Linked DNA regions of Homo sapiens: all the other regions are linked to region 7. The links come from fine-mapping of genetic effects on gene expression. A gene starts in region 7. Each other region holds a variant in brackets. All regions are shown on one strand. Distances are between the middles of the regions. Region 1 overlaps MACO1 (macoilin 1). Region 2 holds the start of RSRP1 (arginine and serine rich protein 1). Region 3 has its middle 28 kb from the start of SYF2. Region 4 overlaps LDLRAP1 (low density lipoprotein receptor adaptor protein 1). Region 5 overlaps TMEM50A (transmembrane protein 50A). Region 6 has its middle 43 kb from the start of SYF2. Region 7 holds the start of TMEM50A (transmembrane protein 50A).

Evidence for each region. PIP is the estimated chance that this variant, and not a neighbour inherited with it, causes the effect.
Region 1: its variant is fine-mapped to the expression of TMEM50A in monocytes after LPS (Kim-Hellmuth 2017, PIP 0.93).
Region 2: its variant is fine-mapped to the expression of TMEM50A in whole blood (INTERVAL, PIP above 0.99).
Region 3: its variant is fine-mapped to the expression of TMEM50A in whole blood (TOPMed, PIP above 0.99).
Region 4: its variant is fine-mapped to the expression of TMEM50A in whole blood (INTERVAL, PIP above 0.99).
Region 5: its variant is fine-mapped to the expression of TMEM50A in whole blood (TOPMed, PIP above 0.99).
Region 6: its variant is fine-mapped to the expression of TMEM50A in whole blood (INTERVAL, PIP above 0.99).

What each region holds. Positions count from the first base shown.
Region 1 is chr1:25,451,924-25,456,332 of GRCh38, forward strand. MACO1 (macoilin 1) reads left to right here. Exons shown (of 11, transcript NM_018202.6): 4 at 2,336-2,459. Among named protein-coding and RNA genes, the nearest start is that of MACO1, 23 kb to the left of the region's middle. The variant C/CA (reference allele first, on the strand shown) is at 1,737.
Region 2 is chr1:25,244,336-25,248,744 of GRCh38, forward strand. It overlaps RSRP1 (arginine and serine rich protein 1), which reads right to left and starts at 3,119. Exons shown (of 5, transcript NM_020317.5): 1 at 2,974-3,119; 2 at 2,109-2,694; 3 at 815-966. The coding sequence starts at 2,628. RefSeq lists enhancers at 1,910-2,634, 2,635-3,359. The variant T/G (reference allele first, on the strand shown) is at 2,158.
Region 3 is chr1:25,202,206-25,206,614 of GRCh38, forward strand. No RefSeq gene overlaps it. Among named protein-coding and RNA genes, the nearest start is that of SYF2, 28 kb to the right of the region's middle. The variant G/A (reference allele first, on the strand shown) is at 2,555.
Region 4 is chr1:25,551,306-25,555,714 of GRCh38, forward strand. LDLRAP1 (low density lipoprotein receptor adaptor protein 1) reads left to right here. Exons shown (of 9, transcript NM_015627.3): 2 at 2,617-2,759; 3 at 3,555-3,667. Among named protein-coding and RNA genes, the nearest start is that of LDLRAP1, 9.9 kb to the left of the region's middle. The variant G/A (reference allele first, on the strand shown) is at 2,120.
Region 5 is chr1:25,358,397-25,362,798 of GRCh38, forward strand. It overlaps TMEM50A (transmembrane protein 50A), which reads left to right. Exons shown (of 7, transcript NM_014313.4): 7 at 2,264-3,965. The coding sequence ends at 2,309. RHCE (Rh blood group CcEe antigens) reads right to left here. Exons shown (of 10, transcript NM_020485.8): 10 at 3,853-4,157. The coding sequence ends at 4,131. Among named protein-coding and RNA genes, the nearest start is that of TMEM50A, 22 kb to the left of the region's middle. The variant C/G (reference allele first, on the strand shown) is at 2,421.
Region 6 is chr1:25,186,838-25,191,246 of GRCh38, forward strand. No RefSeq gene overlaps it. Among named protein-coding and RNA genes, the nearest start is that of SYF2, 43 kb to the right of the region's middle. The variant G/A (reference allele first, on the strand shown) is at 1,866.
Region 7 is chr1:25,336,410-25,340,818 of GRCh38, forward strand. It overlaps TMEM50A (transmembrane protein 50A), which reads left to right and starts at 1,925. Exons shown (of 7, transcript NM_014313.4): 1 at 1,925-2,047; 2 at 4,065-4,170. The coding sequence starts at 4,078. It also overlaps a transcript of RSRP1 not described here. RefSeq lists silencers at 469-763, 1,755-1,874.

The sequences.
Region 1 (4,409 bases), 120 kb after region 7:
TCTGTCTCCAAAAAAAAAAGAAAAAAGAAAAAAAAAAGAAAAGGAAAAAAAGTACCTATTTTTGATATGTTAAATTCATAAGAGTGGTTGAGACCATTAGCTGGCTTCACAGAGCATCCAGTGACAACTTCACTCAGGTACTAGGACTAAGGGAGGTTCTCCTTAGAAGCAGATTTAGTACTGTCTCTGTGAACTTGGGCCCAGTTTATTTAAACTCTGGGGTTTACTCTTCAACAAAATGAGGAAGTTAGACAAAATGATCTTCCTAGTTTGAAGATACTATGATTTTTCTTTAGTTTCATCCCAAAGATCCTTAGCAAAAAGCCTTCAGGTCACTGATTTTTTCCCCCTCGTGCCCATGTAGTCCACATTCATAAATATCCCGTTATTAGTCATGTCCTGATATAGATGGACCTAGCCTGCAGATTTTGATTCGAAAAGCCAGTGGACATTTGCCTTTATTTGCATCTTATTTTGTTGCAAGTTGCTTTTTCCTCCCTTGAAAATTGTTTTTAATTACAAAGGGAATATGAGTTTGTGCTTCAGAAAAAATTTTTTTGAACAGTACTTAAGTGTCAGAAACATTTCTTTGTCCTACAACTTGTTCTTACTTAAGGATTATTTTTTTTATGTCATTCCATGACAATGCAGATCTTCCTCATTCTTTAGGAACCTTCAACATATTTCATTATATAGATTTATCATAAACAGTTTCCTGTTGATGAACATTTAAATTCTAAATTTTTGCTATTGCAAATAATATTACGGTGAATTGTTTTTTTTTTTTTTTTGAGGCAGAGTCTCGCTCTGTTGCCCAGGCTTGAGTGCAGTGGCGCAATCTCGGCTCACTGCAACCTCCGCCTCCTGGGTTCAAGCAATTCCCTTGCCTCAGCCTCCCGAGTAACTGGAATTACAGGTGTGCACCACCATGCCCAGCTAATTTTTGTGTTTTTAGTAGAGATGGGGTTTCACCATGTTAGTCAGGCTGGTCTTGAACTCCTGACCTCGTGATCCACCCACCTTGGCCTCCCAAAGTGCTGGGATTACAAGCATGAGCCACCACGCCTGGCCCTACAGTGAATTTTTTTTTTTTTTTTTTGAGATGGAGTTTCGCTCTTGTTGCCCAGGCTGAAGTGCAATGATGCAATCTCGGCTCACCGCAACCTCTGCCTCCCGGGTTCAAGCGATTCTCCTGCCTTAGCCTCCCAAGTAGCTGAGATTACAGGCGCCTGCCACCACGCCCGGCTAATGTTTGTATTTTTAGTAGAAACAGGGTTTTGCCATGTTGGCCAGGCTGGTCTTGACTCCCGACCTCAGGTGATCCGCCCTCCTCGGCCTCCCAAAGTGCTGGGATTACAGGTGTGAGCCACTGCGCCCAGCCCAGTGAATATTTTTATGTATTTATCTCAAGACTCTTTTATGTTTCTATGGGGTAGATTCTTAGAAGTGGAATTTCTGGGCCGGGCACGGTGGCTCACGCCTGTAATCCCAGCACTTTGGGAGGCTGAGGTGGGCGGATCACGAGGTCAGCAGATGGAGACCATCCTGGCTAACACGGTGAAACCCTGTCTCTACTAAAAATACAAAAAATTAGCCGGTCGTGGTGGTGGGCGCCTATAGTCCCAGCTATTTGAGAGGTTGAGGCAGGAGAATTGCTTGAACCTGAGAGGCGGAGCTTGCAGTGAGCCGAGATCACGCCACTGCACTCCAGCCTGGGCGACAGAGTGAGACTCCCT[C/CA]AAAAAAAAAAAAAAAAAAAAAGAAGTGGAATTTCTGGGTAAAAGAAAGGTACAAGTATTTAAATTTAAATATACTGCCAAATTGCTATCTAAAATGGTTGTCCCAATTTATATTATTGCCGAGTATGAAAATGAACCTTTGCCCATACCCTCCCTATGCTATTATCTGTCTTTAAAAATTTTATCTAATAGTTAAGAAAATGGAATCTGATTGGTTTAATTTGTATTTCTCTAATCAGTAGTTAACATCTTTTTCTATGTTTTTTAGCCATCTGTATTCTTTTGTGACTCGTAAATTATTTTCTTTAGTTAGCTTTTTATTGATTTGTAGGAGCTCTTTGTATGTCAGGGCTATGAATCCTTTGTTTTACATACATTGTAAATATTTTTTGCCAGGATGTTTGTCTTTTATTTTTGTCAGCGATTCTGTGGAATCATTTGTCATATAAAAGCTTTCAGTTTGGATCAGTTTGCCTTTTAATTTAGTTTAGGTGAAGGTCTTAATGAAAGTTACTGTCGTCAAATTAGTCTCCCAAACAATCCATCTGTTAGTTACTATATCGTTTATTAATGCTTGCCTCTCTGCTGCTTTCTCACAGAAAGGGGAGTGTGTTTGCCTACAGTGTCTCTCTGGATCCTCTTTGTTTATATTGAAGCAGCCATTAGATTTAAAGATCTCAAAAACTTTCATGTAGACCTTTGTCGTCCATTTGCTGCTCACTGGTAAGTATTACATAAATGTATGTGTGTGTGTGTGTATATGTGTGTATGTATATATATGTGTGTGTGTGTGTGTGTGTGTGTGTGTGTGTATATATATATATATATATTTTTTTTTTTTTTAGACGGAGTCTTGCTCTGTCACCCAGGCTGGAATGCAGTGGCACGATCTTGGTTATGCAACCTCTGCCTCCCGGCTTCAAGCGATTTTCCTGCCTCAGCCTCCCAAGTAGCTGGGATTACAGGCGCGTGCCACCACACCTGGCTAATTTTTGTATTTTTAGTAGAGACAGGGTTTCATCATATTGGCCAGACTGGTCTCGAACTCCTGACCTCAAGTGATCCACCTGCCTCAGCCTCCCAAAGTGCTGGGATTATAGGTGTGAGCCAGTGCACCCAGCCAGTATTATATATATTCTTTGTCTATAATTCATTTCACTGTAGAATGTTAAGTTCAACTGTAAATTTATTCTTAGAAATTTTACATGGATCCAGAAAGCAGTACAGCATGGTTGGAAAGACCATGAGCCCCCCCTTTTCAGGCAGATGAGTGAATCCCAGCTCTGTCCTCTGACAGCTTGTGTTGCCTTGTCACTGCCTCTAAGCCATGGTTTTCTTACCTGCCTCACTGGGTCATGGGAAAAAGGAACTGAAGTGATACATGTATTCAACTTAATGCCAAGCACATAGGTGTCTGATGAATGTTAGCTATGTTTATTATAATCAGGTAATGATTCCAGAAGGTCTTGATGAAATATATGGCTAATTCATGAAACTTAAAATAATTTAGAATTTCCTTAGCCTATTTATAAAAGTAAGAGAATATTATTAATAATTTTTGAATGAATATTATTTCTCTTTATGTTAATGAATATTAAGATATTATTCATTTAATCTTAACCATGAAACATTTTTGAAAAATGAGCTTGGTTCTTATTTAGATCTATTGTGGAACTTACCACCTAATGTATGTTTCTCCTAAACACACCAATTTTTACTAATATTTATGGCAGAAACCAAAATAAACAGTAATCAACTAAAAAAATACTGTTTCCAGTATTTTTAGTCTTTTTACAAACAAGTAAATTAAATGAACTTGGTCAGTAAAACATGTCACCGTAAGTTTGTAGTGAGACCACATTTAGACTAATTATAAATTGATACATTTTCATGTTAGTGAAACTTATATGGGCTTGACAGTGTTTGCAGAGGCTTTGAAATGATGTTAGGCAGGCTGGTAAGTTCAATGAAAATATTTAACTTTCTATCCCAGAGATTAGAGTTCTAAGTACAGCTGGTTTAATTTGGTGATACAAACCAAATCTTGGCACTGATCATATCGGATACTTATTTAAATGATTCTTGAATTTATGTATGACAGAATTTATATATGACAGAGTGTTTGTGAACCAATCTTCAAGGAATAGCTGGTGACAGTACCCCTCAGGCAGCAAGAAGATTAAATTAGTCACCTGAATTTGACCCTGCCTTCTAGTATTGAAAATCAAATGATGTCCTTGTGATTTTTTTTTTTAACACTTATGTTTACTTTTGGCTACCTGTAAAGTCTCTACCCTTTTAGTTTTTAAAAGCATACAGGCCAGGCGTGGTGGCTCACACCTGTAATCCCAGCACTTTGGGAGGCCAAGGCGAGTGGATCACGAGGTCGAGAGATCGAGACCATCCTGGCCAACATGGTGAAACCCTGTCTCTACTAAAATTACAAAAATTAGCTGGGCATGGTGATGCAGGCCTGTAGTCCCAGCTACTCAGGAGGCTGAGGCAGGAGAATCACTTGAACCCGAGAGGCGGAGGTTGCAGTGAGCCGAGATCACACCACTGCACTCCAGCCTGGGCAACAGAGCGAGACTCCATTTCAAAAAAAAAAAAAAAAGGGTACAGGTATCTGCCTAAGTTCTAATGCATAAGGCAGTTTCTTCAATATTTCTTCAA
Region 2 (4,409 bases), 92 kb before region 7:
AGTGCCTGTCCCAAATTCTAGCATGCACATGGATCTACCAACAAAAAAACTAAGTTTTCAGTGTGTGAACATAAACTTCAAATTAAACCTCTGATGCTTTAGCCCATGTATCAATTACCAACAGATTTTCTTCATCAATGTCTGCAGACCACATTCATGATTTCTATAAGACAGAAATAGAGCAGATAAACTATACTGTATATGCTGAGTACAGAATTTGTGGGAACATAATGCTGCAAATGAAAGCTACAAACACTCTGTAAATAGCTTAGAAAAACTAGTAATAGAAATCACCAAAGTACCAGCTAATAACGGTGTTATAAGAGTACACTGTTAACTGAAAATGAAAAAAATAAATGTATTTTTTGAGACAGGGTCTCGCTCTGCTGCCCAGGCTAGAGTGCAATGGTGCCATCTTGGCTCACTGCAACCTTAGCATCCTAGGCTCAAAGATCCTCCTGCCTCAGCCTCCCAAACAGCTGGGACTACAGGCATGCACCACCATGCCTGGCTAATTTTTGTATTTTTTGTAAACACGCGGTTTTGCCACATTGCCCAGGCTAGTCTTGAACTCCTGGACTCAAGCCATCTGCCTCATTACAGGCATGAGGCACCATGCACGGCCAAATAAAGCTCATTAATCTCCCATTTTCATGGGTTTGACATTGCCTATCTTCAGATTTGCTACTTTGAATTTAGCACATTATATACATCTCTAGACTTCCCAAAAAGTATAGTCTAAGATATAAGTGGCTAATCAGATTTGACAGTTGGCTTTCTGAAAGTTTTGTTCCGACAAACCTAGAATACTTACTTCAGGCTTTGCACCATTACTTGATACACCTATTCCACGGCTTGTTTCTTTGGCTGAAGGAACAGTTCTGAGACTAGCTGGCAAGTCAATGTTGGTTGTTCCTAGAGCTTTCGCTGCATTGGTTTTTGCTATTTCTAACAGCTCCATTCGATCTAAAAAAAAAAGAGAGAGATTTTAAAATACTCATTAATCTGGTAGTTATTTCCCAAGAGAACTCAGAATTACACAATAAATATGTTATTTTGTGGTATTAAATATATTAAGTCACTTGTTTTATAATAGGTAAACTAAGGTTGCCCTTGAACACTAGTAGCTGCGCTGGTCCACTTTATACTTGTTTTTTCTCCCCCTTACTAAATGCAGATAGAAAGTACCACAGTGTTTGAGAGACTGTAAACCCCAAGTGTGCGCGAGGGTTCCATATGCATCCTGGCACCAATCCCCCGAGTGAACAGAGGGACAACTGTGTAACTTTATTCACTGAAAATTCTATTCTCCAGCTCATTTCTTGCTGAAAAGAATAAAATTCTTAAATTATCTCAACAATTAGTTTTGTTTTCTTGACTAAAGGCCTGAGCGTCCTATTATTTTGTCTTTTTGTTGTACTTAATTTTCTCTAGCTAATAGTGATATTATTTTGCTTTCTCTTCAAAGATGTATTTCTGAAAACCAGGTTTTTCTGCTGTAGATTCTTTATATAATTATCACAACCACTGAACCAATACTGATACACTACTAAAGTGTATTTCTACCACCACCCCCGGCTAATTTTTGTACTTTTACTAGATAGTGAGCTATGTTGGCCAGGCTGGTATGGAACGCCTGGCCTCAAGTGACCCACCCGCCTCCGCCTCCGCCTCCCCAAGTGCTGGGATTACAGAGGTGAGCCGCCGCGCCCGGCCTCCTAGGTCACTTAGGATACTCGACAATCCAATTTTATTCAGTAATAATGTCAACTAAAAGAAGGCGTGTTTTGATATTGTTCTTCCCAATCACGTTAACTTAGAACCTTTAACTTAATCATAACATTTAAAAGGCTCCACCCACTAAGAACAGTCAGCCAATAGGAAAAAAAGTTCCCTACATCCTGAGCCATTTAACATCCAGTTGACCTTTAACCCTAAAGAGAATGCTGTCCACTTAAATACAGGTAATGTCCTCCCTCTTTCCTCCAAAAAGATTTCGGGCACTAAAGGAACTAATATTGAAACTACACAGCAACGTTGGTTCCCTAGCCTACTCATATACTGCCACCATACATTACCACAAATGGAAAGGTAAATGACCCACCCACCTTTTTCACTTAAGCGAAAGGGGGTTCTGCTCCGCGACCTCGTCCTGGA[T/G]CTGTCCCTCCATCTGCTGTGCTCCTCCGGGTACACTGTGCGACCAAAGCCGTAGTAGCGCTGTCCCCGCGCGATCGCGTACGCCCTTCCGCAGTACGACCTTCCCCGAGAGCGCGACCTGCTACGGGACCGGGACCGGTACCGCGAAGGAGACCGGTAGTATCTCCTGGTGAACCCGTAGCGCCTCTCTCGGTAACGGCGGCTGCGGGATCGCGACCGGCTCCGCGAGTATGACCGCGAGTAGCGCCTGTACTTCCGCTGGTGGCGCCTTCGGGAACGGGACCTGGACTTGCTCCTCCGACTCCTGGACGAAAACCGGCTCGAGACGCGGGAATGGGACCGAGAGCTTCTGGAAAAAGAGCGGCTCCTAGACCGCGACGACAGCCGGCTGGACCCGCCCGACCGCGAGGTCGAGGGCGAATCCTTCTCCTGCGGCGAGCCCGGCCACATGTCGTTCACGTAGTTGGACATCTTCACCTGCGGCTTTAGCCTGCGCTTTCTCCGGAAAGGATCCCGCAAGCCTCAACTCAGGACTTCCTAAAAAACCAAGAGAGAAAAAACAAGTCGAGTCGCGGAAGCCGGCGCCTGGCCACCCGGAAGCCACAGTCGGGGAACCTCCGGGAGGCGGAGCCACGGCGCGGGCGGCGACCGCCGCGACAGGAACCGAGCCCTAGAAACCCCGCTCGGCGCCCTGAGGCCGCGGCCTTGAAGCGAAACGCTGCGTTCCCCAAACGCGGGGCCCGGCACGTTTCCCGTCCCTCACTCCTGAGAGACCACTGCGGTGGTCCTGAGAGACCCCGTCAGCAGAAAACTTACCGCACGCCGTCGACGCCTCCCTCACGACTGAGAGAAAGGCTCAACAGACGCCTTCCTTTCGGAACGTAAGACGAAGTGGGGCTTTTAGTCCCTGCTTTCGAACGGCGAATTCCACAACCTCCACCTCCTACGTCCGGATGCGCACTGAGGGACTACGTTAGCAGACGCGTCAAAAGTACCAGAAGCTGGCCCCCGGCGCATGCGCAGAGATGTTCCGTGGTGGGCGCGGCTCTTCTCTTGCCCAACCACCGCCCTGCCTCCTCCCTCCCCAAGCCGCGCCCTGTGCCTCGAGCGCTTGCCTCCAGGGTGCGCATGCGCGATGGGGCTCCAGGGGGAGGTGTTTGATACATCAGGGTGTCCCGTTGCCCTTGGCTTCCCCCCTGATCTGAGATAATTGCGGGACCGACCCAGTCACCAGAAAACTTCGAAGATGGAACGGCCCCGCGTGGGGCTACACCAGGCTCTGGCCTCACTGCACGGGCGGGGCTGGACGTCAGTGCCGGGCGGGGAGTAGGGCCGGGAGAGGAGCGGCTGCAGGCTGGAGAGGGCTCGCAGCCGGGCTCGGAGCTGGGGCCGTCTGACGGGCTGGTGCCCACAGGGTCGTTGCCGCCACCCACCGGCAAGTCGCAGACCCGGCCTGAGCCTCCCTGGACCCTTCCTGGCCTCTTCCTCCTGTCCTAGGTACCGCGGCGCCAGGAGAAGGCGACCGCGTCCACACCCCGCCATGACAGAGAGGGGACCTCACCCTCCCCCGGAACACCCCAAGACCCCTGGAAATGCAGTATTAACGTAGAAAAGATGTTTTACTTCCATGTTTTGGCTAGGAAGGTAATAAGGTCGAGACAAAATAAAAAGACTCAAAACTGACCTTTAATCTGGGGATAATAATGAAGTCTGCGATATCTCTTCCAAAAACTGTGTTTGGTGTGAGTGTAAACAAAGGTGACTATTTTACTTCTAGGGATCTACAAATGGGATGCATTTCAAACACTTCTTGTAATAAAGCATAACAATTGCCTTGAAAATTGTGGGTTAATTGCCTTTTTTTTTTTTTTTTTTTTTGAGACAGGGTCTCACTCGCCCAGGCTGGAGTGTGGTGGGGCCATCACGGCTCACTGCAGCCCAGGCTCCCGAAGAGCTGGAACTACAGGCATGCACCACCATGCTAATTTTTGCACTTTTTTACCCACGGGATCTAACTGTGTTGCCCAGGCTGGTCTCCAACTCCTGGGCTCAAGCGATTCTTCCGCCTCAGCCTCCTGAAGTTTTGGGATTACAGGCGTGAGCCACTTTGCCCAGCCTATACACTTCTTTACAAGTACATTTTGACAAAAGCCACTTTCTTTAGAGGGAGACACAAACTCACTCATCTCTTGTTCATCTTCACCCCACATCTCCGCAGTTCATCCACATCTCCTGAGGATGCATCATGATGG
Region 3 (4,409 bases), 130 kb before region 7:
GATCAAGAGTCTGTCTCAAAAAAAAAAAAAAAAAAAACAGCCTAGCACACCTTTTCTCAAGAGCACCCACAAACACTTTTGTTATTACTTCTGCCTTGTGCACCTGTCAACACTTCCCAAGACAACAAACATAGAACGCTGGGGAATAAAACACCAACATGCCCCAGCACATTTATTTCCAGATGCCCTAGTGTGACTCTGCTTACAAAAGGGACCTTTTTCCAGCAGTCAAAGTCAGTCTCTGGGTGGGATCATGAGCCCACTCCTAGGCAGGGTAATGTGTTTACAGGCCAACACTGAGAGTTAAAAACTAGCCCTGGATCTAACAAATTGTCCTGACCATGCATTTGTTTTTTGCCTCGTTTCCTTCCCATGGCCCGACGATGGCAAGCTGCAGGTACATCTGTTCTGAAGAGCAGCCTCCCGCCCTTGGTCACTCTGTCCCGTGTCTCTCAGATGTTTAGTCCCGCGGACTGGGACCTGCTACACTTGGGCCAAGGCTTCTGGCTCCTCTCACTAAAGGCCTCAATTTAACTTAACGGACTAAATAAGGAACCATTTCTATATGATTAATTAATTAGGGTTCTGCTAGGAAGGATAATAATATAATAATGTAAGTAAGACTGCAAGGCCTAGCTACCAGCCTATAAAAAGAACACCAAGCACAGCACAATTAGGAAGACATTCAAGACGGAGGAAGCTCGGAGCCGTGGACTCAGCTCTGACTAATGCCAAGATTGGTTCATGGGGTTCAAATTCAGGGTCCAGCTGGCCTGCCTTAGAGAGTTACCTGACTTTTTTTTTTTTTTTGACAGAATTTTGCTCTTACTGCCCAGGCTGGAGTGTAATGGCATGATCTCGGCTCACTGCAACCTCCGCCTCCCAGGTTCAAGTGATTCTCCTGCCTCAGCCTCCCAAGTAGCTGGGATTACAGACATGAGCCACCACACCCAGCTAATTTTGTATTCTTAATAGAGATGGGTTTCCTCCATGTTGGTCAAGCTGGTCTTGAACTCCCGACCTCAGGCAATCCACCTGCCTCAGCCTCCCAAAGTGCTGGGATTACAGGTGTGAGCCACCGCGCCCAGCTGAGAATTACGTGACTTCTCTGAGCTGTTGCCTTCTTCTGAAAGATAGAAGAATTGATGTGTATTTGTCAGAGTATTGTGGAAATTCAATAAATGCAATATATGAAAATTACCCAGCACAAAATAGGCTCAAAACACCTGGAAAATATTGCTTAAGAAATTCCAGACCGGGCGCAGTAGCTCACACCTGTAATCCCAGCACTTTGGGAGGCTAAGGCACGCAGATCATCTGATGTCAGAAGTTCGAGACCAGCCTTACTAACAAGGCAAAACCCTGTCTCTACTAAAAATACAGAAATGGTGATGCATGCCTGTAGTCCTAGCTACTGAGGAGACTGAGGCAGGAGAATCACTTGAAGCCAGGAGGCAGAGGTTGCAGTGAGCCGAGATCACATCACTGCACTCCAGCCTGGGCAACAGAGTGAGACTCTGTCTTAAAAAAAAAAAAAAGAAAGGAAAGAAAGAAAAAGAAAAAAAAAAGAAAGAAATTCCAGTGCAGTAGCTGGTACTAAAGATGGAAATAAATGCAAAGAGTTTTGTGTAATGTGGTCCATTCTGTTTTATTGGCAAATGTCTTCTTTTTCTCTGCACTTTAATATGCACATTCACAAGTCCTTTGAAAGAAAGTGCATGAAAATTTAAAACAGATGTAAATTAAAATCCCAACAGGAATCATCTTCATTGATTACAGATGGATAAATAGTTGTTATTTACAGATGAGTCAAGGTGATCCTAATTGGTAGGTTTTCTGGTTGGTATTTGTATTTGAGGGCATTAGCATAGCAATTGAAAGCCTCTCGATGTCCCCTCTCCACGCCTCACCCAAGCCTCTTATCTCCTCCATGCTGCTCCTACTCTCTCCCCACCCCCCAAAAACATTCTTGGCCACTTCAGTACTCAAGGTCTCCCACCTTGGGTCCCTCAACTCTCCTGGAGCTAATGACCCAATTCCTCAAGGCCTTGCTAAATAACCTCTGCATCTATCTAACCCTTTTTCTGTAAAGAGCCAGATAGTAAATATTTTAGGCCATCTGTCAACTCTGCCACTGTAAGCTGAAAGTAGCCACAGACAATATGCAAATAAGTGAGGCTGTATTCCAATAAAATGTTATTTACAGGCCGGGCTTGGTGGCTCACGCCTGTAATCCCAGCACTTTGGGAGGCCGAGGCAGGCAGATCACGAGGTCAAAAGATCGAAACCATCCTGACCAACATGGTGAAACCCCGTCTCTACTAAAAATACAAAAATTATCTGGGTGTGGTGGCGTGAACCTGGCTGAGACAGGAGAATCACTTGAACCTGGGAGGTGGAGGTTGCAGTGAGCCAAGATCGTGCCACTGCACTCCAGCCTGGGCGACAGAGCAAGACTCCGTAAAAAAAAAAAAAATAATAAATAAAAAATAAAAAATTAACCGGGCGTGGTGGTGCACACCTGTAATCCCAGCTACTCGGGAGGCTGAGGCAG[G/A]AGAATCACTCGAACCAGGGAGGCAGATGTTGAAAGTGAGCCGAGATCGCGCCACTGCACTCCTGCCTGGGCGGCAGAGTGAGACCTTGTCTCAAAAAAATAAAAATAAAAATAAAAAGCAGATTGCTGGGCCCCACTGCCAGAGCTTCTGATTCAGTAGGTCTGGGTGGAGGCCAGAGAATTCACATTTTTAACAAATTCCTGGGTGCTGCTGTTCCAGGGACGACACTATGGGAACCACTGGCTGCATGTTAAAAAAAAACCTGAAAGTACACTGCCCCCTAGTGGGAAGTTCCTAGAAGTACCCCATACCAAATATTGCTTTGATTTTAGAATATACAAAAAATTGCGTTATCTTTTGCCATGGAGAAGAATCAAATTCACAAAGCCAATTTGTCATTCATATACTTGGGATTCCATAACCACATTCCAAGCTTCTCTCAAGAAATGAGGTGTCACATTATTTACAATAACATGGCAGTGATTTAAAATCAAGTTAAACCAGAAACATATTATTTTCCACCAGGGGAAAAACACTTTAAATAATCTAAATAGAATAAAACTGCTGCTGGCTCTGTTCTCTGGCCACTCTCCCATTGCCAGACGCACAGACCTCTCCTGAGAAGCAAAATCTACACCCGATCCAAGCTGAGGCAGCTGATGAAATTCAGCAGGAGATGGGTCAAAATCAGCTCGTGTCAGACCCCAGAGTCTGTGATCTTTGGACACACAGAACTGTATCAGTGGTGAAGGACCCCATTAATAGGCAACTGTTAAATATTTGCTACACATGGTAGAAAACAATGAAAGCCTCTTGTTAAAGCTGAGAGCTCCTGCTCACCTCTGGTTTTCATTTCTCACATCATATTTACATTAACCCAAATTTGTCACTGGTTTCCACCGTGCATTCAAAATTTCCACAAAAGCACTTCTGTTTTCCCCATGAAAACTGCATTCCGACATGCCGGAAGTGAAATTACCCACTCCTACCTATCTGTCCCAGCAAAAGACCTGGGTCTCTAACTCTACCTCTCACAAAGTAAAAGGGTGTTACAGTCACCAATGGCAGATGACTTGGGAGTCCATGCTTAGCAAGCTGCAGGGTTTTGGCAGCATAGAGAAACATATTAGAGCCATGCTACAAAAGATGGCCTGGTACCAGGAGAACGGAAATGACAGGGACCGGAATGGTTTTTGAGGCCAAAAATTTATATTTGATCTCCAGATGTGATGCAGCTGACAGCTAATTAGTTTGACTTAGATCTACACAAATCCAACCCCCCTTTCTTCCACACATGCTGTGGGGATGCTGGTGTGAAAATGTGTCTGCCTGGGGTCGCGCTTTGATTGAGAATTCTCTGGAATGAACACACTTGGAATCCCTGAGAACACTGAAGCCCCGGCACATGGGACATCTGGTGAGATGCTCTTTCTCCTTTCAGCTTGACCCAAGAGCAGGTAATGAAGTGGTGTTCTTTATTCAAGTGGCTGATTCCAACCTAACAAGGCTGGAGTAAACTGTTCAGCTTCATGTTTCAGTGTGCGAGGCCACCATTAACTGCAAACCTCAGTGGTCAAGAGCTACCGGATGTGAATGCTGCGGCTACTAATGAAAAAGCAATTGTGGTACATTCGCTGCAGAGCTGTTTGTGAGCAATGAGAAAGACACACAGAGCAAGATGGGGGCCCTCCCTGGCAGGACACACTGAGGCAGACACAGGTCCTGCTTGTCCAGCTGCCATTCCTCCCTGCTTCCTTGCTGGTTAGGATGTTATAGCTATCGAGGACAGCAGAAGTACCAAGACCTTAGCTACCCCAGAGGATCAGAGCTAACACTTATGGCACCTTACTATGT
Region 4 (4,409 bases), 210 kb after region 7:
GAAGAAATGCCTCCGCCTCCAAAAACCTGATCTTTTGCTAGAATTAAGGTAGTTTGCTGCATGATAAAGTAGTATGGTCTCATGGTCAGGAGCTTGGGCTTTAGAGTCAGTCCTTTGAGTCTCAGTTTCCTCTCTGTAAAATGGGAATGAGAGAATGCCTGCTTGCAAGGTGGCTGTGAGTGTTAGAGGTGATGGTAATAGCTATGGCTTTATTATTGTTGCATCTTTGTTATATGAAAGCGCTGTTTTTCCCTGATGATGGTGCTGTTATTCTGAACTTGAGAGCAGGGTCTGTGTCTGAGTTGCTCCAGGGCCCCATCACTCAACCCAGGACTGGGGACATCTCAGGGACTTTCACATTCTTTTGGAGGATCAAATGGAATAGGCTTGTGGTTGATGGGACAGAGGATAAGGTCATGTTGGGCTTTGGGGTCATCTCAGTGGAGACCTGGCCTCATGTTGGGGTGGAGGCCCAGGGATGAGATCTAGGGCTGGAGGGTCACTGGGCCTGGGGCCAGGGCTGGGGATGGGATGGGGTTGTCCTCGTCATTTCTTCCTTGAGCGAGTATTGAGCGCTACCTGCATGCCAGGTTCTAGATGACAGTCAGTAAGTCCCTGCTCACCTGATCTCAAGACATGAGGGGAACTGGGTACATCTGTAAGTTCCTGTATAACCCTCCCCAGCCCTGACACCCGCACCCTCTTTCAGATGAAGAAATGGCCTCAGAGAGGGACAGTGGCTTGCTCAAGGCAAATCCAGAGAAATGTGGGTGTACAAGGCTCCTTCTGGCTGTGGAGAGGGGGACCAGAGCCCCTGGAGGCCCAGGGCTCTAGGATAGGAGCTGAGAGGGGCAGCAGGGATCCAGACTGGGTAGGGGACCTGGTGATGCCACCTGGACCCAGACTTCTGCTCTTGACAGAGCCGGAACTCCAGAACCAAGCTGAGCCTTGTAGTAGGGGCCCACATCCCTGCCAGAGCCTCAGCTGCCCTGGAACTAGCAATACCCAAACTTTCTTCCTGTGGCTTTTCAATCAGAGCCAGTGAGGAAGGCCTCAGGAGGAGGTAGGGAGGGCCCAGGACATCTCCCAGCCCCTCCCTGGGGGATGGTCTAGGGAAGCTGGCCCTGGCTACCTCTCGTGGCCCCTGGAAGCTGATTCCTGGCTGGATCCTGCTCTGTCCTCAACAAGATTGTGTGTGAGGCTGAAGAGCAGTTTTCTTTCTCATCTGTAAAATGGTGCAGTCATAACAAACACCTCCTACAAGCACAGCATCTGTGAGGGTTTCCTCTCTGTAAAATGGGACAGAGAGGTAGGGGACAGGAAGGGGCTCTGGCAGGTGGAAGTGTGAGGTGTTCATTCATCTTTCTTCATGTCCTCCTTCCGAGGAGCCGGGGATGGTCAGAAACTGTCAGTGCAGCCTGCTTTTGCCCTCATGCCCATTTGCCTCCACGGGGCCCTCACCTACGTGGTGGGGCGCTCTTTCCACGTGTCCCTCCTGGTCCATTTGCCCACCCAGTGAGGCAGGCTCATCCCCTTATTTCCTGACATTTGTGTGGTTGGTGCTTTTAGAGAACTCTCCTTGTGGACTCTGTTCTGCACCATTGTCACAGCCCAGAGAGGGGGGAATGTTAGTCCCAAAGAGGAGAGGGGACTTCCCTAGGACCATCCAGGGGGTGGGAAGCAGAGTGGGTCTCGAACCTTCTCCGATTTGGGAAATCGCCTTCTCCTCTCCCCACCCACCCTTACCCTTCCCTGCTCTCCCTGGGCTACTGTCTCCTGCCCAGCCTCCCACATGCCCCTGTTGGTCTCTACGGATGCGCACAGGGAGGAAAGCAGTGCAGGCTGGGGCCATGGGAACCGCTCAGGGTTGAAGTCCGACTCATTGTATGTGGCCTTCATCTCATGACTTTGCCTCCCTGAGCCTCAGTCTCCTAATCTGTAGAATCATTGTCTCACAGGATTGCACTAAGGATTCAGTAAGAAATGGTATGATTTGCCCTCAGCAAGTGGTAGCATTGAAGTAAAGAGGGCTCAGGGCTTGAAAATAGGGCTCGAAACTTGGCTCTTGCACTTCCTGGCTCTCTGGACTTGGTTATGTGATTGAGCCTCCATGGCCTCC[G/A]TGTCTTTGTCTGTCAATGGGTTTGATTAAAGCGTTGACCTCATAGGTTCTTAGGAGGATTAATGAGAACATTTTATGTAAAGCTGCTTACATGGAGCCTTGGTATGTGCCGGAAAGCTTTAGCCCTTTATTAAAAGTGACAGCAGACCCAGCACGGTGGCTCATGCCTGTAATCCCAGCACTTTGGGAGGCTGAGGCGGGCAGATCACTTGGGGTCAGGAGTTCGAGACCAGCTACTCGGGAGGCAGAGGCAGGAGAATCGCTTGAACCTGGGGTGCAGAGGTTGCAGTAAGCTGAGCTCGCACCACTGCACTCCAGCCTGAGTGACAGAGTGAAACTCAGTCTCAAAAAAAAAAAAAAAAAAAGAGTGGCAGTAGTGGTGGGGGAGACCCCCATCCCCCTTGCTGGGGTTTCCTAGGAAAGAAGGCTGGTGAGAGCTGTTGCTGGTGGTGGGCCCTGAGCCGCAGGGTCTGAGGGCCTACCCTGTGCTACCCCAGAGCTGCCTGAGAACTGGACAGACACGCGGGAGACGCTGCTGGAGGGGATGCTGTTCAGCCTCAAGTACCTGGGCATGACGCTAGTGGAGCAGCCCAAGGGTGAGGAGCTGTCGGCCGCCGCCATCAAGAGGATCGTGGCTACAGTGAGCACCCCAGTCAGGAAGGGTGGGGGAACCAGGGACCAAGGACCAGCTTCTTCCCAGGGTGCCCTCGTCCCAGCTTGTTACTCCAGTTGGGTGTGTCTGAGCCTGGCCCTGCCCTTCATTCTCCTTCCATCCAGCTTTTGGGCCTTGGCAGAGGGGAACCATTGGACTTGCAAGGTCACGGTTAGTGGCTTCCCTCCAGCCATTATGGCCTCTTCCAGCCTCCCCACCCCCAGCTCAGGCTCCCTACCAATGCATTGGTGACTTATCAGCACCAGGAAGGGTGGGGAGTTTGCTTTCCCTTGACTACCTGCCCAATGGCCTGAGAGACAGCATAGCCCATCAGAGAGCAGATTGCCCCCTCCCTAACTTTGAGCAAGGGTGGGCCTTTTAAATCCACTTCCCTTGGTGGCCTCAGACCCCTCAGCTCAATGGATGGAGCAGAGTACTCAGGAGTCATCCTGCTGGGTTGTGCTAGCTCATTCAGTGCCGAGTCTGCAGGCCCTTCTAGCTGTGTGTCCTTGGGTAAGTCCCTTAGCCTCTCTGAGTCCATCTCTGGGGAGAGGGAGGATGACTCCAGGTCCACGGTGCCTGACAGATAGCTGGTGCTCAGCAGATGCTGCTCCTGTTTCTATTGCAAGAAGGTGCTGGCTGAGTGGTCTTGCCCACACTGCTGCCAGTCACCTGAGCTGAGATGGGCCCCGTGCCTGGGGCTTAGGAACAGTGAAGTGTAAGCCATGAGGGTGGGTCTCAAGTGAGGCTGGCAGACTCCTCTGACTCCTGTCTGCTCCCAAGGCTAAGGCCAGTGGGAAGAAGCTGCAGAAGGTGACTCTGAAGGTGTCGCCACGGGGAATTATCCTGACAGACAACCTCACCAACCAGCTCATTGAGAACGTGTCCATATACAGGTACGCTCAGCATGGGGTTGGCCCATCCACTCTGCCACTTGGGGCAGTGGGTGGAGTATCCCATCTGAATCCAGGCTCTACCACTTCCTACCTGGGTGACATTGGAGCCTCAGTTTCCTCATCTGTAAAATGGGGGTGGGAACAGATCCTGCTGCACAGCGCTGTTAGGAAACGTGGAGTGCACGGCACCTGGCTCATGATGAGCATTTGGTTAAGTGGCAGCTGCTGCTGTCATCATCACCAGTTGCAGAAGACAGCTGAGCCCACCCGTGCCCTTCCCCCCTACTCCCCACCAGCATGCCGCTGAGTCGGGCTTGGAGCAGAGAACTGCAGAGTCACTGCCTTTTCCTTCTGCTGTGAATGCAGCAGCTCAGCTCTGGGTATCTGGCCAGACATTCCAGGGAGGCCTCAGCCAAGGTCTGAAGTCAGAGTATAGATGGTCTCTCTAGTGGGTCCTCTGGTCAGCCCTTAGAGCCTCAGACTATCCCCACCTCTCTCGGCTGGTCAGTTGTAGTTTTTCAGAACTGGAAGGGACAGCTCAGGTCCATTTTACAGATGGAGAAGCTGAGGCCCAGAGAGGGAATTGCCTAAGGCTGCACAGTGAGGTAGTAGCTAAACTGGAACTAGGATATCCGGGCCAGAGCCCTGTCCAGCAGGCTCCCGTCTGCCTGGCATCCCTCCACCCTCTTGCTTTGTCTCTAAGCAGATGGCTCAGCCCGTTGGTGCACAGGCCAGTAGTAGG
Region 5 (4,402 bases), 22 kb after region 7:
AAAGGCTAGGAATCTGATGTATATTACAGGACCTTTCCTTCCCCTTCCCTTCCCACCCACCTCCAAAAAAGAAACAAAAATCCCATGTTTACTGAAGCCCTCTTGAAATAGTAATAGTTGCCCTTCAGAAAGAGCCACCAGTTGGTATTCACACCTATTCTATTCCATCACCAGGCATTTTTGCCATTTTGTAAAATCAGTTTGGAAATAAAAATGTAAACTTAGATGTGACAAGATGCACAGCCTCTTTGGGTTATACCTTGTATCCTGTAAGCAGATTGAACCCCAGGTAATTTTGACAGTGTAGGAGGGACTGGTCCCTGGCTCTTGCCCAGGAAACTCTTCCGATTAGAGTTCATATCTTGTGACGAGTATTCTGAAGTTACAGCATCTCTTTTAAGCTATTTGGACAGTAGAGGCCTCTAATAACCAACTTCAGTTTTTCTTTGTTACAGCAGTAGATCCTATATTAACTAGAAGAGCAGAGATCTGGGATTACAGGCGCATGCCACCATGCCTGACTAATTTTTGTATTTTTTGTAGAGACGGGGTTTTGCCATGTTGCCCAGGCTGGTCTCAAACTCCTGGGCTCAAGCGATCTGCCCGCCTTGGCCTCCCAAAGTGCTGGGATTACAGGCATGAGCCACTGTGTCTGGCTCATAGCCCCCATTTCATTTGGTGCCTGGGACTGCGCACCAGCTGCCCCATAGAGCATGCAGGCAGGCATCCCCATAGAGCATGCAGGCAGGCAGCCCCATAGAGCATGCAGGCAGGCGTCTGCACTCTGGCTCATCTAAGGCACCTGTGGGTAATTTGCCACCCTTGGCAATTGGCTTTCCAAAGCCTGGCTGTGTCCATTCCCTGCCTCCTCATGGCCAACCATAATCTGGCCATGGTGGATTCTTCCTTGTTCTGTTAACACCTCAGGTATCATTTTATGCATACAGTTGCGCTCTTGCCTCTTTTAAATTGAAGCCTTAAGGACAACTGTAGACGTTCCCTCACCGAAACCCTAGACCAGGGGTGTCCAATTTTTTGGCTTCCCTGGGCCATATTGGAAGAATTGTCTTGAGGCACTCATAGAATACACCAACAATAGCTGATGAGCTTTAAAAAAAAAAAAAATCACAAAATAAATCTCATAATGTTTTAAGAAAGTTTACGAATTTGTGTTGGGCCTCATTCAAAGCTGTCCTGGGCCACATGTGGCCCATGCTTTGTGGGTTGGACAAGCTTGCCCTGGACTGTAAGCTCTGTGAGGGCAAATTCCTGTCATACTAGTCTCCTGGGCTTTTCCAGAAGCCCCATGCTTTTTTATGCCTCTTTCCCCTTTGATGTACTGTTTCCTGTCCCCGAAACACCTGCCTTCATCATCCCGCTAGGTCTTGTTCCTACCAATCTCCCATTCAAACCCCTGTTTTTCCACAAAAGCCCATCTCACATATTACCACCTCTGTAAATCCTTTTCTAACTTATTCAGGGTGACCGAATTCTGTGTTTCTGTGCCCCCTTAATACTTGTTATATAAGTCTCCTTCCCCAACCACCCCCACACTTACCACATCACGTTAGCAAGAATGAGAGCAATTTGAGGGCAGTGGCTTTGTATCTTATTTATAGCCCTGGCACCAAAACAGTTTGTTGAATGAATTTGATAAAATCAGACGTATAGGGCTGGGCACAGTGGCTCACGCCTGTAATCCCAGCACTTTGGGAGGCCGAGGTAGGCGGATCACGAGGTCAGGAGATCGAGACCATCTTGGCTACCATGGTGAAACCCCATCTCTACTAAAAATACAAAAAATTAGCCGGGTATGGTGGCGGGTGCCTGTAGTCCCAGCTACTCAGGAGGCAGAGGCAGGAGAATGGCATGAACCCGGGAGGCAGAGCTTGCAGTGAGCCGAGATCACGCCACTGCACTCCAGCCTGGGCGACAGAGCAAGACTCTGTCTCAAAAAAAAAAAAAAAAATCAGACATATAATGGTTACATAGTAAACACTGGTAACTTTTTAAAAGTCACATGTGTATTCAGTACTTGAAAGTTAAGGTTGTTGGGAATATGGTGGTTAATAGCACAGTTGAACATAATGGAAGAATTCACTACCTTAGAATGATCAGTTTCTGTTTTGATACATTTCGTACCAAAATTTCTTCTACAACTCATCAATTATTCTTCGTTGTTTGTTTCACACCATTCTCGAAATCTCACATACTCTTTTCTCAAATTCAGGGAGTCATGTGATATTTCTTGTTTTATTCACAGAGGGCTGGTTTTTAAGTTTGGCCGCACTGAAGACTTATGGCAGTGAACACATCTGATTTCCCACAGCACAACAGCCCTGCATGGGTTTGTTTGTTTTTTTACTGCTCACTCCCAACCTTTTGTAATGCCATTTTCTAAACTTATTTCTGAGTGTAGT[C/G]TCAGCTTAAAGTTGTGTAATACTAAAATCACGAGAACACCTAAACAACAACCAAAAATCTATTGTGGTATGCACTTGATTAACTTATAAAATGTTAGAGGAAACTTTCACATGAATAATTTTTGTCAAATTTTATCATGGTATAATTTGTAAAAATAAAAAGAAATTACAAAAGAAATTATGGATTTGTCAATGTAAGTATTTGTCATATCTGAGGTCCAAAACCACAATGAAAGTGCTCTGAAGATTTAATGTGTTTATTCAAATGTGGTCTCTTCTGTGTCAAATGTTAAATGAAATATAAACATTTTTTAGTTTTTAAAATATTCCGTGGTCAAAATTCTTCCTCACTATAATTGGTATTTACTTTTACCAAAAATTCTGTGAACATGTAATGTAACTGGCTTTTGAGGGTCTCCCAAGGGGTGAGTGGACGTGTTGGAAGAGAGAAGCACCATGGTCCAGCCACCAGGCTCCCTGTGTCCCTTCCATGGGAAGGTCTTCCGCTGTGCCTCTCATTCCAAGGGCAGGAAGATGTGACTCAGCCATGACACGTGGTTCTGGTGGGATGCACAGTCACTCCACATCCACCATTGAAGGAAAGGAAAAAAGGGCAGAGACTTGACACTCCAGTCTTAGACAGGGGACAATTTCTTTGTAGTTGTTCTGATAATAAACTGGGTTCCATGTTGCATTTCATCTGTGTACTGAACCACTAGCCTAATAGACCAGCACGGTCAACTAGAATGACAAACATTAGCTACTGGGAACTCTTGTTGTCTCTTCCTCTTCAGAACTCTTGTCCCCCCAGGCTCCCCACCTCTGCAAGATGGGATACACTCTTCAGGACCACAGTTTGAAATGTCTTTCATAAAATGTGCTACAATTAGCCTTCGGAATATTTGCTGGGTGATTTAAATGTGTGGGTCTCATTTCCATGCTAGCCATGGTCATCTGACAGTCTCTACACTGTGAATATTGCCTGGTGATCAAGACTCTCCTCAAAGAAATGACTTGCTGTCATCCCACATGAACTCCTGATGTTTTTTCTACAAAAGTCCATAAAATGTGAAAACTGGAGAAGATCTTAGAGGTTGAAGCCCACCTTCTCTTTTCACATAGGAGGGAACAGACCATGGAAATTTAAACGACTTCCTCACGGTCACAGAACTAGTTTTTTAATCCTCAGGCAGTGCATCCCCCCACCCTACAACTGAGCACAACCTCTTTCCCCACAGTGCAATTCAGAATATGCTCAGGGAATGCCAGCCACCTTGTAAAACTGCTGGGAGAAAAGCATGATTCCCACAAGGACTAAGTATCAGTGATTTGTAATTTTCCTGTTTTGTATTATCTGCTTTGCTGATGTAGACAAGAGTTAACTGAGTAGCATGCTTTATTAAGCATGAGAAAGAATCTTAAGAATTGTCAATAAAATTAACCCAAAACTTTAATAATGTGTCTGTAACCAAGAAAATATTGATAGCATCATCCTAATGAAACTAAACATTTATTTTAAACTTATTAAATTGACTCTTAAACTAAGTTTTTAGTCTTTAATTTTTTAATATCAAATCTGTCTCTGACCTTGTTTCATTATACATAAGGAGACTTTGCTGTCATGAGCGTTTCTCACGTACAAATGCAGGCAACAGTGAGAGGAAGTTGTCTTGTTTTTGAACAGGCCTTGTTTTTCTTGGATGCTTTTGCTTAAAATCCAACAGCCAAATGAGGAAACTGTAAAAGCAAAACAAACATTTTTATTGCAGATGAACCCACATACTGATTTTGGCTTGATCTCTTGAAACAGCCTAAATGTCTCATTACAAAGACCTTAGAAATTCTTTCATAAAATCTGAATTGGAAGAGATCTTGGATATATAGGTTTTATTTCATCTAACGTTTTACATGGATTGTTGATAAATGGCCATCTGGCTTTTATTTGAATGCCTCCAAAGACAGAGGACTCACTACTGCCATAT
Region 6 (4,409 bases), 150 kb before region 7:
GGGAGGCCAAGGCGGGTAGACCACTTCAGGTCAGGAATTCAAGACCAGCCTGGCAACATGGCGAAACCCATTCTCTACTAAAAAGAGACAAAAATTAGCCGGGCACAGTGGCACACACCTGTAATCCCAGCTACTAGGGAGGCTGAGACAGGAGAATCACTTGAACCCAGGAGGCAGAGGTTGCAGTGAGCCAAGATCGTGCCACTGCATTCTAGCCTGGGTGACAGAGCAAGACTCCATCTCAAAAAAAAAAAAAAAAAAAAAAAAAAACTCACATCTAAGCAAGTTGTTTAGATGTTGGAGGGTTTTGCTGTGTTGAAGGGGGGTGCTGGGTGGTTTTTGCCATTTCACATTGCCTGTTGCTTTTGGGTCAGGGACAGGGGTCACCAGCTGACTTGGGGGTATAGAAACCTGATTCGGACATTTCACACACCACAGGAGGAAAGCATCCACTTAGCAAGGGCTGCGCCAACTGGCAGGTGTTCACATCTGTCTTCAAAGGCCTTATGACCTATGACAGCATCAGCACCATTCAGAGGCCAGGGAGGGTTGGGCAGCACAAAATCTGGAGGGAATCTACAGTAGCCCCCGCCCCGCTCCCCCCCCAGCACCCTCAGGTCCACAGGGGAGATGAGCGATCTAATTAAAAGGGTGTGAGGGTGCGATGACGGCGGCAATAAGAACCTCCTGGCTCTCTGGAGGTCTCTGTCCTTCCTGAGAGCCCTAAGCGTCTTCTCAAAGACAAGGCTTATTTGTCCTGCAACAGTTCTGTGAAGGTAGAATCCCACAGAAGCTGTATCATTGAGTTCTAAGCAAAGTTGAGGCCCAGAGAGGTTAAAGGTCATGCTCGGTGGCTTTTGTCCAAGGTCATACTGTATGATAAAAAAATAAACTGAAATTGGCAGTTTCTTAAAAGTTAAACACACATCTAACATGCAACCCAGGCAGCCCACTCCTAGATACCAACCCAAGAAAAATGAAAGCATATGTGCACATGAAGACTTGTACCCAAATATTTACAGTTTTATTCATAACAGCCAAAAACTAAAAACAGCTGAACTATCCATCAAAAGGTGAATGGATAAGCAAATTGGGATATACCCTTATGCTGGAATGCTATTCAGCTATAAAAAGAAATAAATTAGGTCAGATGTGGTGGCTCGCACCAGTAATCCCAGCATTTTGGGAGGCTGAGGTGGGGGATTGCTTGAGCCTAGGAGTTCAAGAGCAGCCTGGGCAACATAGTGAGACCCCATCTCTCAAAAAATAAAAATAAAAATAAGGGCCGGGCGCAGTGGTTCACACTTGTAGTCCCAGCACTTTGGGAGGCTGTGGCAGGAGGATCACTTGAGCCCAGGAGTTTGAGACCAGCCTGGGCAACATAGTGAGACCCCATCTCTCAAAAAAAATAATAATAAAAATGAAGAGCTGGGTGCAGTGGCCACACTGGTAATCCTAGCACTTTGGGAGGCCAAGGCAGGCGGATCGCCTGAGCTCAGGAGTTTGACACCAGCCCGGGCAACATGTTGAAACCTCGTCACCACTAAAAATACAAAATATTAGTCGGGCATGGCGACGTGCACCTGTAGTCCCAGCTACTCGGGAGGCTGAGGCAGGAGAATGGCGTGAACCCGGGAGGCGGAGCTTGCAGTGAGCCAAGATAGCTCCACTGCACTCCAGCCTGGGCGACAGAGCGAGACTCCATCTCAAAAAACAAAAAAGAAATCAGACTGAAAAAGAAAAAAAACAAAGAGTACATACTATAGACTCTATTCATACAAAATTCCAGAAGATGCAAACTAATGTATCTTAGTAGAAAGCAAATCAAGATCACCTGGGGACAGGAGGAATGGATTACTAAGCAC[G/A]TGAGGAAACCTTTAGGGGTGATGGAGCCGTTCACTATCTTGATTGTGGTGATAGTTTAACAGGTACATACATATGTTAAAATTTATCAAATGGAGCACTTTAAATATGTGCAGTTTATTATCTGTCAATTATACCTCAACAAAGCTGTAATAAAAGTTGTTGTAATTTTTTTGTATCTTCCTATATAAAAGCAATTTTTTTTACTTTTTTAATATAAAAAGGGAAGCCAAGCATGGCAGCATGTGCCTGTAGTCCCAGCTACTTGGGAGACTAAGGTGGGAGGATTGCTTGAGCCCAGGAGTTTGAGAACAGCATAGGCAACATCCCAAGACCCCATCTCTTAAAATAATGTTAATAATAGGCTGGGCATGGTGGCTCACACCTGTAACCTCAGCACTTTGGGAGGCCGAGGTGGGCGGATTGCTTGAGGTCAGTAGTTCAAGACCAGCCTGACCAACATGGCGAAACCCCACCTCTACTAAAAATACAAAAATTAGCCAGACATGGTGGCATGCGCCTGTAATCCCAGCTACTCAGGAGGCTGAGGAAGGAAAATCACTTACCAGGGAGGCAGAGGTTGCAGGAAGCAGAGACTGCACCACTGCACTCCAGCCTGGGCGACAGAGTGAGACTCCATCTCAAAAATAAATAAATAAATAAATAAATAAATAAATAATATGGCGTGGGGTTTTTGTTTGTTTGTTTGTTTTGAGACGGAGTTTTGCTCTCGTTGCCCAGGCTGGAGTGCAATGGCACAATCTCGGCTCACCACAACCTCCGCCTCCCAGATTCAAGTGATTCTCCTGCCTCAGCCTCCCGAGTAGCTGAGATTACAGGCATGCGCCACCACGCCCGGCTAATTTTTGTACTATTAGTAGAGACGGGGTTTCACCATGTTGGCCAGGCTGGTCTCAAACTCCTGACCTCATGATCTGCCCACCGTGGCCTCCCAAAGTGCTGGAATCACAGGCATGAGCCACCGCGCCCGGCCATAAATAAATAAATAACATGTTTTAAATGTTCTCTTAGCCTTAGTGCCACCTTCTTAGAAACCTACTTGCCATGAGAGCCAAACACAGGCTAAAACGCAAAAGAAGAAAGATGGGGCAGAGGTGGAAGCCTGTGTACCCATGGAGGCAGAGGGAGTGCCAGAGGCTGAGGACACTGGTACAACCGTTGGACTGCATGCTACTGTCTACAACTTGTCTTTCAATGGATCCAGAACATCCATCGCCATCTGATCACCAAGAGCACCTCTAAGAGATCCCCCTTGGTCACCAAAGCAGTCCCTTTTGTCCTCTGCCCTGGACCTGGGACAGCCTGGACTAGTTCTGTTCTCAGTGGTGGCTGAGTGTAACACATATACACTAAATCATCTCTTCCGTTGTCGCAGCCAAAGAATCGAAAAAAATTTAAAAAGGGGAGGGGATGACAAGTAAAAGAAGAAACACAAGGAGGAAAATAAGGTACTAGAAATGGTGTCAGGATGCAGAATATAAGCCATGCTACCTGCTAGAGGTGGGACTCAAATTTGTTTCTAAGTTTTCTAGCAGTGAAGGCAAAGAAGAGGAGGGATATTAACATGATTCCAAGTCCAGGAGCTAGAAATGAAATCAGTTGTTTAGGAAGACCCACTCCTGAGCACATGAGGCTGTTGGTCTCATAATTTCTCTGAAATAGTACATACCCATTGTCAACGAGATTCTTAATAGTGCAGGCAGAAGCTGTGGTGTGCTAGTAAATGTCTAACAACAAGCTCATGGGGTGGATTGGGTGATGTGTAGTGTTTGCCAGTTTCTGTGGTGTAAATACTCCCACCACAGCCAATTTCAAGCTACTTAAGTGAAGTCACTGAACACCAGGTAAAATAACCTCAAGAGTATAATAATAGCAAAATGTAGAAAAATCATTAGGCCGTGGGGAGTTTTGAATACTTATTGTCTTTTTAAATATAATCCAATTGTAAGCTCATATAATTTGATTTTGTTTTGTTTTGTTTTGTTTTAGACAGGGTCTCACTCTGTCACCCAGGCTGGAGCACAATGTTGCTGTCACAGCTCACTGCATCCTCAACCTCCTGGGTTCAAGCGATCCTCCCACCTCAGCCTCCTGAGTAGCTGGGACCCCAGGCCTGTGCCACCACGACTGGCTAATTTTTGTATTTTTTTGTAGACACAGGGTTTTGCCATGTTGCCCAAGCTGGTCCCAAACTCCTGGACTCAAGCCATCTGCCCACTTCAGCCTCCCAAAGTGCTGGGATGACAGGTGTGAGCCACCGCACCTGGCCTATAATTTGATTTTTAATGCTGCTGGCTCATGAAATGCCTGAAGATTGAATGAAGTTGAGCACACCAACTTAGACGCTGTGGCCAAATCCGAAGTTCCCACGTGTCCCAAGTCCCGTGGTTGGATGTGGCGATCCCAGCTGGGTGGCAAGGGAGGTGACAGAAGCCACCTGTCAGACACAGATGGAGATGGTGCTGTACGTGGTACTAAGGCTGTGCATAACAAGGAACTAGTTGGCTGCCCCGTGGGCCCTCAGG
Region 7 (4,409 bases):
AGGGGTTAATATGGGTGGCTGGCTTTTGCTATTTCTAGCAGCTCCATTTTATCTACAAAAGACAAACATTCATTAAGTCCCAAAAAGGTAAAGAATGACAAATTAAGCATGTATCTTATTAGTAAGAGTAATATAAAGATGCTCACTCATATTTATAAATATTTGACAATCATGTTAAGGCCAGAAAAGAGAAAAAAGGGTAGGGGCAAAAAACGCAAAGAGAAAGGAGTTAGTATCTTTTCTCCCGCACTCATTAGCTATTAAAAGAGGATGTTTGTTTAAAGCTGCTCAGAGCTGGTAAACTAATGTTAAGTCACTAACGGGAATTTAAAAGGTTTCATTAAGAACTGCCTGCACTAGATTCCTCCACCCTGAGACATTAAACAATCACGATAAACCTCCTGAGTGGTAAGAACGTGTCCATTTAAAAACAGGCTATAGATTGTCATGCAGTTTTATCTACTAATCGGCTAATGCACCGCCAAAAACAAACAAAAAAACCCAAAGGGATGAAAGTTTCATCCATCAAAGGAAACAACAGTCACCTTGGTTCCCATCCCACTCATATACTGCCGCCGTACATGTCAATCAGATGAACCTGTGCGTATCTCTTAACGACAATTGACCCACCTTTTTAACTGAAGTGAAGGGGGGTTCTGCTCCGCGACCACTTCCTGGATCTCTCCCTTCACCCTCTGTGTTCTTTCGGGTGCACCATCGGGTCAAAGCCGCAGCAACGCCGTCTCTGTGTGATCGCATGTGCCCTTCTGCACACGACCTTCCCCCGAGAGTGACCAGCTACCGGACAGGCACCAAGGAGGGCTACCGAGCACCTCCCGGACCGGCGGCTGCAGGATCGCGAGCGCCTCCGCTAGGGAGACCGCACGTTGCGCCTGTGCTTCCTGCGGTGGCGCCTTCTGCAAGGAGACCTCGACCCTGCTCCCTCTCCGGGGCTGGATCTGACTCCTTGACGGTGATTCCAGACGCGAGACCCAAACTGACGGCTTCTAGAAGAGGGGCGAGCCCGGCCGCAAGTCTTTCACGTAGCTAAGTCATCGTTGCTTCCGGCTTCTTACCGTTCTCCCCTTTGTAAACGGTTACCTCCCGAAAACCCAGGCTCTCCTCCAACAGTGGTTCTCAAGCGAGGCGATCTTCCCCGGGAGGGGATATTTGGCAAAGTCTGGGGGCATTTTTGGTTCACTGGGGCTGCTACTTGCATCCACTGGGTAGAGGCGGGGGATGCAGCTACACAACCTGCGAAGCACGGGACAGCACCCTCCCCAACCCAGACAGAATTAGCCGGCCCAAAACCTCAGTAGTGCCCAGGCTGAGAAACCCTGCCTTAAACAAACAACAAAGAAAGGCCAAGTCCCATAAGTGGGTCACCGCGCCGAGACTGGGGTCCACGGGACACCCCAGCCACGCCAAGCCGGGAAGTCCCCGCCTCCTGGAGCTGAACCCGCCCCTCTCCCAGAGGTGGAGCTGCGGGGGGCGGGAACAGGCACGGAGAAAATAAACAAGACTAAAAAGTCCTGAGTAGCGCTGTGTGGCCGCAAACCTGAACCCACCTTTTGCACCACGCGGGACCCGGCACTCTTCCTGCCACCCACCCCTGAGAGGGCTGCGCGGCCGACCCCAGTACTAGAAAACACTCGTCACCTCACTCAAGACGGGTACGAAGGCCAACGGACGCCTTCCTTTAGAACGCTCAGCACACAGAGCAACTTCTCACGCCTACTCTCAAATGGCGTACTCCAAACTAGCACTCCCGACGTCCAGCTGTGAACCCAGAGCGGCGGAAAGCCCCTGAACCCAGCGCCCGGGCATGCGCAGACGCGTTGTTGTGGTGGGCGTGGCTCCCTCCGGACCCGGCGCCCCGCCCTCCGCCCCGTGTCCGCATGCGCGACTGAGCCGGGTGGATGGTACTGCTGCATCCGGGTGTCTGGAGGCTGTGGCCGTTTTGTTTTCTTGGCTAAAATCGGGGGAGTGAGGCGGGCCGGCGCGGCGCGACACCGGGCTCCGGAACCACTGCACGACGGGGCTGGACGTAAGTGTCGGGCGGGGAGTGGGGGTAAGAGAGTAGCGGCCGCAGGCTGGAGAGGCCTCGGAGCCGGGGCCGTCTGACGGGCTGGTGCCCACAGCACAGGCTCGTTGCCGCCACCCTCCCGGAAGCCGCAGACCCGGGCTGAGCCGCCGCGGACCTCTCCTCTCCTGGGTCCGGCGGCGCCAGGAGAAGGCGACGGCGTCCAGACCCCGCCAAGACGGAGAGGGGACCGCGCCCTCCCCCGGGACACCCCAGGATCCCTGGAAAATCCCCCGATCCCCCACTTCACAGCTGGACAAGCCGAAGCCCCGAGAAAGGAGCGTGACCCGGCCAGCTCCCTCAGCGAGGGGTGCCCCGGCTAAAGGTGGCTCCCCCATCTTCCAGCGGCGTCCCTCGAGACCTAAAAGTCCCAGAGTTTGGAGGGCGGGGTCTGGCTTGAGCGTACCAGTCGTCGTGCAAAGAAAAATGGATTCGGGGTGGGGCCATTGGGATGAACCGAAAATAACACTTATTGAATTGCAGTTCTTCCCGGGGAAGAATCAAATGAGTGAATTTCCTAAATTGAACTTGTCCCAAAGGCATCTTAGCATTGGCTGTAATCATATATTTTAATATTTAATTTTTAAAAGAGAAGTTAAAAATGGGAGACGTTGCTCTATTGTAGGGTGTCATATTTTTGGACAACCATAATTGCTGGCTACAAAGTATCTTAAGGAAGTCAAGTTCGCTGTAGGAGTTTGGGTGTTGTTATTCGCAAGTTATATGTATTTCAGGCTTTTTCATACTCTGAAATAGAGATAACATGGCTGTATCTCAGGTCTCTACTGCTCGGCTTACAGGAATGTTTTATATAATTTGTAAAGACAGCTTGGGTCGGCTATATTTAAATAGCAGTTGGATTTTTGTAATCTGAATTACTATTAACCACGATTCTGTGCTTGCTTTTGGCTGGAAACACCCGTTAGGATCAGAGATAGGGATATTAAAGTGGATGTTCTTTATATAGAAATGACACCAAAAGGCAGGCTTGCAGAAAGAAAAATAATGAATGAAGTGAAAGGAAATGATGTGGGTAGAGGTAAGAACTGCAGTGCAGTGTTTAATTTCTTGATTTAGGTGTGAAGAAACACACGTTCTGTGATAAAATATGTAAATTAGAGAAATATTTTTCATTTGAATCTGTAATTCCACTCAGAGCCAAAGTTTATCACTTGTCTCTCTACTAATGTTAGTGCTCCTGGACTGTAAATATCAAATTCATTTAATAAGTTTGGAATCAAAATGATACAAAAGAGCTCCTGTGGATTAGTAATCATATACTTGGTATTAAAAGTACCACCTAAACTAATTTAATACCTACTTAGAAATAATAGGATGTGACAGATTTTCAGGAGGAGGTCAACCAGTAGTTAAAATTTTTTCAATATTTGGAGACCCACCTTTGTTAATACTGCTTAAATATATCCAAACCATTTATTTCTATTTATTTATTATTATTTTTGAGACAGAGTCTTGCTCTGTCGCCCAGGCTGGAGTGCAGTGGCACGATCTCGGCTCACTGCAACTTTCGACTCCCAGGTTCAAGCGATTCTCCTGCCTCAGCCTCCCAAGTAGCTGCGATTACAGACATGCGCCACCACCCCCGGCTAATTTTTGTATTTTTAGTAGAGATGGGGTTTGCCATGTTGGCCAGGCTGGTCTCAAACTCCTGACCTCAGGTGACCCACCCACCTCAGCCTCCCAAATTGGTAGGATTACGGGCATGAACCACCACGCCCGGCCCCCAAACCATTTTTTACATTAAAAAAGATACTAAATGAATCCAGATATTACTTTCCAAAGTTATAATGTGGAAATTCATCAAAAACTAAATCAAATATTCTGAAGAAGTATGTGGAACCAAAATAAAGCATTTGTAATTTCACTTTTATCTAATTATTCCTGAGCTATTAATTATTTTTCGGGCTTGAAGCAAGTAAATGGAAGTACTTATTTAATTGTTTGTTTGTTTGTTTTTAAGTGACCTGAAAAAAATGTCTGGATTTCTAGAGGGCTTGAGATGCTCAGAATGCATTGACTGGGGGGAAAAGCGCAATACTATTGCTTCCATTGCTGCTGGTGTACTAGTAAGTGTCATTGATTATTTGGGCCTTATTTTTTGGTGCGTTTGTGTTTATGGGTTTTGAATTCTGCAGGATGTTTTAAAATATGTACTATTTATTTTATCTTTGACCACTTTGACCATGTTGATATTTTGTTGTTTGTGGAGAGTTATTAGTTCCACTTTAAGAGTTTATGGTTTAAAATTTGATTAACAAGTGGTTGGGTTGTTTTAACTGCATGGTAAAAATGGCATAATAAAACA